Regions from separate parts of the Homo sapiens genome. Here region 1 is linked to region 2. The links come from fine-mapping of genetic effects on gene expression. A gene starts in region 2. The other region holds a variant in brackets. All regions are shown on one strand. Distances are from middle to middle. Region 1 has its middle 9.1 kb from the start of SLC28A3-AS1. Region 2 holds the start of SLC28A3 (solute carrier family 28 member 3).

Region 1 (5,383 bases), 72 kb after region 2:
GGGGACTCAGTAGAGTCCTCCGTCGCAGTCTGATTTGACTACTCTGTTTCCATAGCAACAGACGAGGCGTCCTCGAACCAGCGAGACGTGCGGAACATGATGTGCTCGCAGGAGGCTGCAGCTGGGCGCTCAGGAACGCTGTTTTGTTTTGTTTCTCAAAAGCCACTGAAGTATTCAGAAAGAATCCAATCAAAATTGCATTTAAAATGGGTGGGGAGGGGGTTGTTCTTTTCTGGCCTTTCTGATGACATGAGGATGAAATTAATTTCTGAAATGCGTTCTCCTTCCTCTTACCAGTAATACCAGGAATATGCTTGAGGGGAATTTTAATCAGGTTAAAGGTTTTTACCTGTGCCTCTGCTGAGGTGTATAGCACAGACAGCGACCAGAAATGAATGGCAAGGAAACGCACAGATCCCGATAGTCTCCCCAGCAACTGGCTGGGGATCTGTATGGGCCTGAGAGGACAAAGGCAGAGATTTGGAATCTGGAGGTGGCTCCAGAATATCCTGTGTTGTCTCGCTAACTAGATTAGGAGAGGCACTCAGGAAGGCATTTTACCTCTTCCTCTTTTTATAATAGCTTTTGCAAAATGCTTCATTGCAAACGTAATCATATTTGTTGTAGAAAAATTCATCATTTTAAGAAGAAAATAAGAACTTTACCCATGTCCCATTACAAAAATATATCTAGTGCTAATAATCCATGATGTATCGCCATTCGATGTCTGTGTGTGTGTGTGCGTATGTATGTGTAACACTTTTTAAATGAGATCACACTACTGTGATTTATTTTGAGGAAGCTTTTCCCCCTCCCCTTTAGTATGTCAAGAACATTTTCCCACATTAAATATTCTTTTACATCATCATTTTAAAATCACTGAAGGGCATTCCATTATATGAGGAACCATAATTTAACTTATCCCCTATGGTTGGCCATCATGGATATTTCCTATATTTTATGACTATTAACAAATGAGCAATAAATATTGTAGTCAAATACTTGCACAAATTCATGACTAGTGATGATTTTTTTTCTCGCGAGACATACAAAAAGTGCAGAGACACATAGAGATTTGTCTGCCAACAGCATGTTTCCTATCTTATGCCAGGCCTCTGGACAAAACCAAATGATCAATCATGGAATAGATAACATATTTCCAATACAAAGTCAGACTATTTCCAGTACTCAAAAGCTCAGATTCTGCTAGCAAGGAAGAAAGTCACTGACATTGTACACAACAAAGACACCCAGTTATATCTGTCCACTTAAATAAAAAGATGGTAGTTGAAACCAGTCAGCAAGCCTGGGCTTATGTGTGATTTCATACACTAACCACTGGCATCCACTTTGTATTAATAACAACCTTTGGCAAATGACATACCAGGTTATCCTCATTGGATTAAAGATGAATTTTCTAGTTGCAGTGTTGGAACTATAAACGGTTTATGTCTTCAGTAGCCTTTTACACTGACAACACAGATGCTTTGGGTATGAATAAGACAAAAGCAAGTTTGCCCGACCATCCTTGCCCTGAGTCCAGGAAGAAAAGAGAAGTCCTAGCCCTCAGAGAATCAAAAATTATGGTACCAGTACAGTTGGATACAAGGCTGACAGCTGGGGAGGGGTGAGCACTGTGTAGATCTCTGAGGAATTAGGTTTGTTTACCCAATCAGGGGATAGCCAGCAATTTCACCAGCAAAAGCTGAATCCAGAACTGTGTGTCCTACACCATCAGCTTACCCACAGGGGCAACCATAGATTCTCCTTTGCGGGGAGGAGGGTAAACTCCCTGTACTCATGGTTCACAGACAGCAGCATACTCTATACATGGTTCTGTTCCTTGCTCTTTTTTTTGTTTGTTTGTTTGTTTGTTTGTTTAACATATCCTAGGGCTTTTTCCAAATCACTACATAAAAACTTTCTTCATTCTTTTGTATATATCACATGCCTCTACTATAATTTATTTCATAGTCTATTTATTTAGTGTCCCATATTTTACAAAAAACAAAAACAAAACAAAAAAAAGCTGCAGTGGCCAGGCGCGGTGGCTCACGCCTGTAATCCCAGCACTTTGGGAGGCCGAGGCGGGCGGATCACGAGGTCAGGAGATTGAGACCATCCTGGCTAACACGGTGAAACCCCGTCTCTACTAAAAAAATACAAAAAATTAGCCGGGCGTGATGGCGGGC[G/A]CCTGTAGGCCCAGCTACAGGAGAGGCTGAGAAGTGAACCCGGGAGGCGGAGCTTGCAGTGAGCCGAGATCGCGCCACTGCAGTCCAGCCTGGGCAACAGAGCGAGACTCCGTCTCAAAAAAAAAAAAAAAAACATGCTGCAGTGAATAGCCTCTACCTATGTCGCTTCCCACAGGTGTGACTATACGAGTATATTGCACAAGAGTGAAGTAGGCAAAATTTTCTCCTATAAAGGAGAAATTGCTAGAAATGGAACTGCTGAAACTTAGTGCATGTACATTTGTAATTTTGAAATAAATTGACAACTTGTCCTCCATGAAGATTTGACTAATTGATATTTCCACCAACCATACACAGTGCAGTATTTAACTAAACTTTTAGTTTATAAAATGCAAAGGAAATGGTACCTCAGTGTTGTTTTAATTTACATTTCTCTTGTTTAATGAGGTTGGACATCTTTCTGCATGTTTAAGAGCCATTTGCCTGTCCTCTTCTTTGAACAGTCTATTCCTACCCTTATTCATTTCTGTATTGGTAAGGTTGTCTTTTCCTCAGACATTAATAGGTGCTATTTATCTGTTAGGAAGCATAACACTTTATCTGTGGCATGAATTGCAAATATTTCCTCCATATTGCCATCTGTACTTTTATTTTTTTGTAGTTCTTTTTTGCCATGTAGAAGTTTCCACATGTAAAGTAAATTTATCTGTTTAGGCCAGGAGCAGTGGCTCACACCTATAATCCTAGCACTTTGGGAGGCAGAGGCAGGAGGATTGCTTGAGTCCAGAAGTTGGAGACCAGCATGGTGAAACCCCATCTCCACAAAAAAAAAAAAAAAAAAAAAAATCCAGGCTTGGTGGCAAGCGCCTGTAGTGCCAGCTACTCAGGAGGCTAAGGTGGGAGGATGGCTTGAGCCCCAGAGGTGGAGGTTGCAGTGAGACATGACCCCACCACTGCACTCTAGCCTGAGAGACACAGCAAGACTCTGTCTCAAACAAACAAAAAAAATTTCCATACTTAAATATATCAATCTCTTTTATTATGGCTTCTAGATTTTGTGTCATAGGAAAGCCATCCCCACTCTAAAGTCATAAAGAAATTTTCTCATCCTTTCTAGTAGAACTTTTGTGGTTTCACTTTTCATATTTGTCTTTGATCCATTTGGGATTTGTCCTCCTAAATGGTGTGAGATATGGCTTCAGATTTTTTTTTTTTTTTTTTTTACATTTTTTTCTAGATGGTTGTCCCAATATCACTTATTGAATACTGGTACAGCTGGCCTCAGTAACCATAGGTTCTGCATCCTTGGATCCAACCTTGAATAGAAAATGTAGCTAGGCCTGCAATGGTTATGTCTGTACTGAACATGTAGAGACTTTTTTTCTTGTCATTGTTCCCTAAATGATACAGTACAACAACTATTTACATAGCATTTACATTGTATTAGGTATTGTAAGTAATCTAGAGATGATTTACCGGAGGATGTGCCTACATTATATGCAAATACTATGCCATTTTATGGCCTCCTGGGGTTTTGGTATCTGAGGGGACTCCTGGAACCAATCCCCCAGGAATACCAAGGGATGACTGTCATCCCTTTTATCATTAAGTCCCCTGTATTGGGATTATGTGGACTTTCTGCTCTGTTCTATTGGTCTGTCTGTTTGCTCCAGTGAACATTAACTGTTTGATCTTTAAAATGAAGATTATAATATCTACCTGAGAGAACTGGCCTTAAGAATTAAATGAGGCCAAGCATGGTGGCTCATGCCTGTAATCCCAGCACTTCGGGAGGCCAAGGCGGACAGATCACCTGAGGTCGGGAGTTCGAGACCAGCCTGACCAACATGGAGAAACCCCGTCTCTACTAAAAATACAAAAATTAGCCAGCCGTGGTGGCGCATGCCTGTAATCCCAGCTACTCGGGAGGCTGAGGCAGGAGAATCGCTCAAACCCAGGAGGCGGAGGTTGCGGTGAGCTGAGATCGCACCATTGCACTCCAGCCTGGGCAACAAAAGCGAAACTCCGTCTCAAAAAAAGAAAAAAAGAATTAAATGAATGTGTAATGTTTGGCCCATAGAAGAGTTCAATAAGTTTCTGCGGAAAATTTTGCCTACTTCACTCTCATACAAAGAAATGCAGATACCCAGATTGTTCACAGATAATCATGGTTCAAAGATTAGCTTTTTCATTCCACTCTGAACTAAAGGCTCCTTTACATAAACTAAAGGCAGATAATGATTTTATCAATGATCTCCATAATAGGTTTAAGGTGGTTTTAGTGAGTTGTTCACTAACCTACTTTGAAATGAAATTCCTAGGGCCATTAATCCCCTGAAACTTGTTTGCCAAAGCAAATTACCAGACAAGACTGGGTTTGAATCCTGGTTTAGCCACTTATCTCTGAGATTCTGTTTCCTTATTATCAAAAGAGGGATAATTATATCTCCTCCTATTCTGAAAAATATTGAGATAATAATATAAGAAAAGTAGCTAGTACTGTGCTTGTCATATAGTATATGTTCAGCAAATGTAGCTTTAACAAATTTTTGTTATCATTATCATGTTCTTTGTTGTAATCATTAAAGATGATGGTTTTGGGTGGATGAAGACAAAAGGAGGGTAATAAACACTAAAACAGGAAAGAAAGAAAGAATAATCAGAATACTAAAATCAAAACTACTTCCAAAACTAAGGTGTATCGATAGAAGGATAGAGGAATATACAACAACGATAAACAATAAGTGATAAATCAGGTAAAATGTTAATGATAGAATCTAAATTTACACAATAAAACTCCTTCGAATTTGCCGTATGTTTGAAATTTGTTATAGTAAAATATTAGGAAAAATTAAAGGCTACCATTGCTTACTCCCTCTAGTCCTAATTTCACCATAACCCCCAAAAACGCTCAAAGGTAAAGGATAATTGATTTTCCTTTAATCTTGATATTTCATATAGAGTGGAGAACTTGTCATTTGCCTCCTGGCCAATTTTTCAAGCTGTCTTTGTGAATGTGATTCACTCCCTTCCCCTAAGATTCATACTTTCTATTTCCTGCTGGTCAAACTGACAGCTCCAATTTACACACACCTGCCATGAATATACTAATGTCCCAGAATCTCCCCTCCCTTCCTGTTTCTCTCAAGCCACCAACTCCCAGAGTCCAAACAGCTTCGTACCAGGAAACC
Region 2 (5,383 bases):
ACTCCCACAGTCTGAGCTATGTGAGATATGCAAAATCTATCAGGCCCAGAGAGACTGGGCCTCAGTCACTGATAAAGAGAAAACAAAAATAACTCACACAGTCCCAGCTATGTGAGCAATGCAAAATCTATCAGGCCCAGAGAAACGGAGGGTTGGACTTCAGTCACCACTCAACCCTGTGCCCGGGGGCAATTTTTTTTTGCTTTTGTTTTTTGTCTTTTGTTTTTTTTTTGAGATGGAGTCTTGCTCTGTCACCCAGTCTGGAGTGCGGTGGCGTGATCTCGACTCACCACAACCTCCACTCGACTCACCACAACCTCCACCTCCTGGGTTCAAGCAATTCTCCTGCCACAGCCTCCCAAGTAGCTGGGACTACAGGCATGTGCCACCATGCCTGGCTAATTTTTGTAGTATTTAGAAGAGACAGGGTTTCACCATGTTGGCCAGGCTGGTCTCGAATTCCTGACTTCATGATCCATCTGCCTCGGCCTCCCAAAGTGCTGGGATTATAGGCGGGAGCCACTGTGCCTGGCCAGGGGCAATTGTTTTAAAGGAATTTTGTTCCTGACTGGCTGCCTTTCTGTTCCTAGAATGTGTGATACAAATAGCAATGTATAGCCAATCAATAGCTTATGTTATTTTAATGTAAATAATTGGTAAACAACTCAGAAACTCCTTCTTTTCCTTTAAAATTCACTTGTGGCCAGGCACAGTGCCTGTAATCCCAGCACTTTTGGAAACCAAGGCAGGTGGGAAGATTGCTTGAGCCCAGGAGTTCAAGACAAGTCTGGGCAACATAGTGAGGCCCCCAGTTCTACCAAAAAAAAAAAAAAAATTTAGCCATGGGTGATGGCACCTGTCTGTAGTCCCAGCTACTCGGGAGGCTGAGACAGGAGGATAGCTTCAGCCCAGGAGGTCAAGGTTGCAGCAAGCCATGATCATGCACTCCAGCCTGGGCAACAGAACACACACACACACACACAAGAATCTACTTGTAACTGCTACTAAGTGTATATTCAGAGCAACTTGAATATGTGCTCCCAAGTTGCAATCTCAAACTTAGACCAAATAAACTCTATACTTACATTAAGTTTGTCTCCGTTTTTTCCTTTAGGTTAACAATAATAAAAGTAAATCATTCTCTTTATAGAAAACTCAGCAGCATTTGAAGGAGAAAAAAAAAACACCAACTGCCCATAAAATTAAAAACCGAGAAATAACCACTCATAATACTTGGTATTTTCTTACTTTTTCTTTTTCTTTTTCTTTTCTTTTTTTTTTTTTTTTTGAGACAGGGTCTCACTCTGTCATCCAGATGGGAGGCAGCGGTGCGTTTTCGGCTCACTGCAATCTGTGTCTCCTGGGTTCAAGCGATTCTCCCGCCTCAGCCTCCCGAGTAGCTGGGACTACAGGCGCACGTTATCACTCCTGGCTAATTTTTGTATTTTTAGTAGAGATGGAGTTTCGCCATGTTGGCCAGGCTGGTCTTGAACTCCTGGCCTAAAGTGATCCACCCGCCTTGGGCTCCCAAAGTGCTGGGATTACAGGCGTGAGCCACCGCACCAGGCCTTTTCCATTCTTTTGTCCACAGTTTTGCAGTATTTTAAATTGTACTAGGGGGGAAAATCCCTATTTTAAAAGAATTCTACAGCTAATATTTTCATAAAGCAAAGTGAATTGCTTTATGAAAACAAAGCACTTCTATTCACTTTTGATAATTGAATAGCTGGTCACCTTTCATTTACTTGTCACATATCGGCATTTCTGTAAGCTGGATTTTTGAAAGCAGCCCAGTCTGAAGCAGGGATGTAATAAAAGGTTTTGGAATTAACCAAACTTGAATTTGAATTCTCATTATCCCTTTATTAGCTAAATGACACTAAACAAATTGTTAACTTTTCTGTACTTCAGTATAGAATTTTGAGTTGTTCGGAAGAAGAGCCAAGACCCTTACCTACCTACCTATCTGTCTATGTATCTATCCATCTATCCATCCCTGGTATACAGTAGGTGATCACTGAGGGCGGCATGACCTTATATCCTGTGTTCACTCACCCTCCACCCCACCACCACTCCTAGTCTTTAACACCACCCACAGGAAAACAGAGGATTTCACTAAGCACTATAGAGAACGTGTCCTTTTCTGGCTGGGCACGGTGGCTCATGCCTGTAATCCCAGCAATTTAGGAGGCCAAGGCAGGTGGATCACTTGAGGTCAGGAGTTCAAGAACAGCCTGGCCAACATGGTGAAACCCCGTCTCTACTAAAAATAAAGTCAGCCAGGTGTGGTGGCATGCACCTGTAATCCCAGCTACTTGAGAGGCTGAGGCAGGAGAATTGCTTGAACCTGGGAGGCAGAGGTTGCAGTGAACCGAGATTGCGTCACTGCACTCCAGCCTTTTTTTTTTTGAGACTCCATCTCAAAAAAAAAAAGAAAGAAAGAAAGAAAAAGAAAGTGTCCTTTTCTGTTTTGTGCACCACAAGAGTTTTCTCCCCAGGAGTGCAAATAGGATGCCAAAAATGGGGATAAAGGAAAAGATTAATAAGGTGGGCGGGCCAGCACTAGATGCCTCCACCCCGCCAACCCGCCCGCCTCTCTGCCCCACCCCAACCAGGTGTCAGCCCTAGTCATTCAGGAGATTATTGCAGAAGTTTCCAAACTGAAGCAAGCTGTGCCCAGGTCCCTGTAACAGCAGGTGGCTTTCTGACATCAGCAGAGACTGGTGCTTTTTCCCAGGTACAAAGGACCTCCAGACCAGAGCCAGCCAGCAGCAAAAAGAGCATGGAGCTGAGGAGTACAGCAGCCCCCAGAGCTGAGGGCTACAGCAACGTGGGCTTCCAGGTGAGCAGAGCTTTCCTCTTATGTTAAAGGCCTTCAGTGGAAAAGCTGCCCTTTCCTTAGCCCCTTGGCAAGTTTCTTACCTAAGCAGGGAGATTATCAGGACAATACGATTTTTAACGGCACACTTTAAGCCCATTATTTTTTCTTCTTGGGCTCTTCTGGGTTGACAAACCTGAAAAGTCTCTTTTAATCGATGTGTTGTGATCCCTATGGTCACTTAGAAACAAGACAGCCTTCTTCTCTTGCCTTTTTTCCCTTCTGGCTCACAGCAGGGGTCCATTATTTATCTTCAGGCACTTTTCCAAAGAACTGGTGAGAAGGGAAAAATGGGGGAATTTAGATCCTGGCTGGGGTAGTGTCTCAGGGTTCCTTTTACTCAAGCCAAGTCCTGGAGCCCCTGTCAGATGGCCCCGGTACCTGCCCCAGAGCAGCTGGATTACGCAAATCAGTCTCACTTCATCAACCAAAACTCACTGAGTGATTAATGCTGCTCAGCCCGAGGCTGGGTGCCCGCAGAGACATAGAAGGAGACCTGTCAGAAACACCAGGCTATTTTGACTGGGTCTGGGATGGGGATTTCCAGGGCTGTTTTTAGGTGTGCTTCCTTTCCTTAGCTGACACTCAGCATGGGCGCTCTGGAGAAGATGGGAAGCCTGCACCGGCAAGTGTCAACAATCCCTTGGACTTTACGGTCTGCTAGATGGGCAAAACAAAACTTTGAGGTGCTAGCCAAGAAAGGAAAGAGGGAGGTAAAAGGGCTTTGACAGGAGTTCAGACTCCAGCACCCACAAATTCCTGTAACTTCCCAGAGCCCAAGTTTGATCATCTGTCCCATGGTCACAGTGATGCCCATCTCCATGAGTAGGCATCGGGTTACCACTTATAGGTCACAAGTGTAGGAGAGGAAACAACTTCATCTACCCTCTTAGGTTGAGTGCCTGAGGCCTGCAAATTAAACCAACATAAAACAGATTAGCAGGAGAAAAGGCACGCAAATTTTATTCATATTTAAAATCTCACATGTGGCTGGCAGTGGTGCCTCATGCCTGTAATCCTAGCACTTTGGGAGGCTGAGGCGGGCTGATCATTTGAGGTCAGGAATTTGAGACCAGCCTGGCCAACATAGTGAAACCCCATCTCTACTAAAAATACAAAAATCAGCCGGGCATGGTGGTACATGCCTGTAGTCCCAGCTACTCGGGAGGCCGAGGCAGGAGAATCACTTGAATCTGGGAGGCAGAGGCTGCAGTGAGCCAAGATCGTGCCTCTGTACTCCAGCCTGGTTGACAGAGGGAGACTCAGTCTCAAAAAAATAATAATAATAAAATAAAATCTCACATGTATGAGAGCCTCACATAAAAGAAACGGAAAAACCTAATAGACTCAGGAGCTTATATACCATTAAAACAAAGCACGGCAAATAGTGAAATGACTAGACAAAGGAAAAGAGGGTTATGCTTTTAGGGACAATAAAGTGGGGGTGGGAGGTGGAAATAATGGAAGATAAGGGTTAATTTATCGAGGTTTGTTCATGCAGATTTATCTCAGCGGCATCTCTGTCTTTGGTGATAAGGGTTGCTCTCTTCCTTGTATGAGCAAGCGGGACACCTGTGCAAGGGAAATATCAATAAATGTGCTGCTTTTAGGAAGATGGGGGATGGGGGAGGGCAGAGAGCTCTTTCTGTGTCTGCTTTCTTTTTCATAGCCTTCAGTTCAAAATATTCTTGTGCCAAAATGTGGGCATTTGGAGGGTGGCACATCCTGATCTCTTCTCTAAGGGCTAAGTGAGGGGGAAAAGCATAAAGCATGGGCCCATTCTGATTCCAGAGAATGGAAAGGATGGAATTGGATAGAGTCAGAGGAAGTATGGCAGCAAGAAAATATATCTGCAATAGAGAAGGTCCATGTCACAGCAACTGGCTGCTCCCAGGGAGGAGGGCACACAACGGTGGTGATCCCTCACTGTCTTCTAGCAAAACTGCTGTTTTGTGGGGGAAACATCCCCCTACACCTGCCCCAATAAAAAGAAGGAAAAATGAAAGGAAGCTTCCTCCTAGTTCTGTAAAATTTCCTGTCATCCTTACTCATTGGATTGATTGAAATTTGAATTTCTACATTTCAAAATCAAAATAGTGAAGACAATTTGTCTTTCAAGAGAATCAGAGGCCTCATAACTCCTGCCAAGTTAATAAGTATGAGTCTTACCTTGTTTGACATTCAGCTCTCCTGCTACATTATCTTCTTTAAGGAAAATTAATTGATTGTAAAATATGTGCTACTTCACTCGCATTATTAAATATGCATTAACATGCCACCAGGACTTCCAAATAAGTTAGGATGCTTACTTATTCACCTTGTCCTAGTCTGTGAATTGTGCTAGAAATTCATTTTTCTTCTTCAAATATTAAGAGTGCCCTTGGTAGACCAAAGTTCTAATTTTACTAAGTAGAACTACTTTCACAGCTTGAAATGCTGATATGGGTTCCCAAAAGGCCTGTGCCTGTAAGACCTGGTGCAGGTGCAATGGTTATGCATATCTAT

Evidence for each region. PIP is the estimated chance that this variant, and not a neighbour inherited with it, causes the effect. A credible set is the group of variants that fine-mapping cannot tell apart.
Region 1: its variant is the best candidate, but not a certain one, in a credible set for the expression of SLC28A3 in fibroblasts (GTEx, PIP 0.53).

The regions. Positions count from the first base shown.
Region 1 is chr9:84,266,365-84,271,747 of GRCh38, reverse strand. No RefSeq gene overlaps it. Among named protein-coding and RNA genes, the nearest start is that of SLC28A3-AS1, 9.1 kb to the left of the region's middle. The variant G/A (reference allele first, on the strand shown) is at 2,193.
Region 2 is chr9:84,338,033-84,343,415 of GRCh38, reverse strand. It overlaps SLC28A3 (solute carrier family 28 member 3), which reads left to right and starts at 2,658. Exons shown (of 18, transcript NM_001199633.2): 1 at 2,658-2,842. The coding sequence starts at 2,783.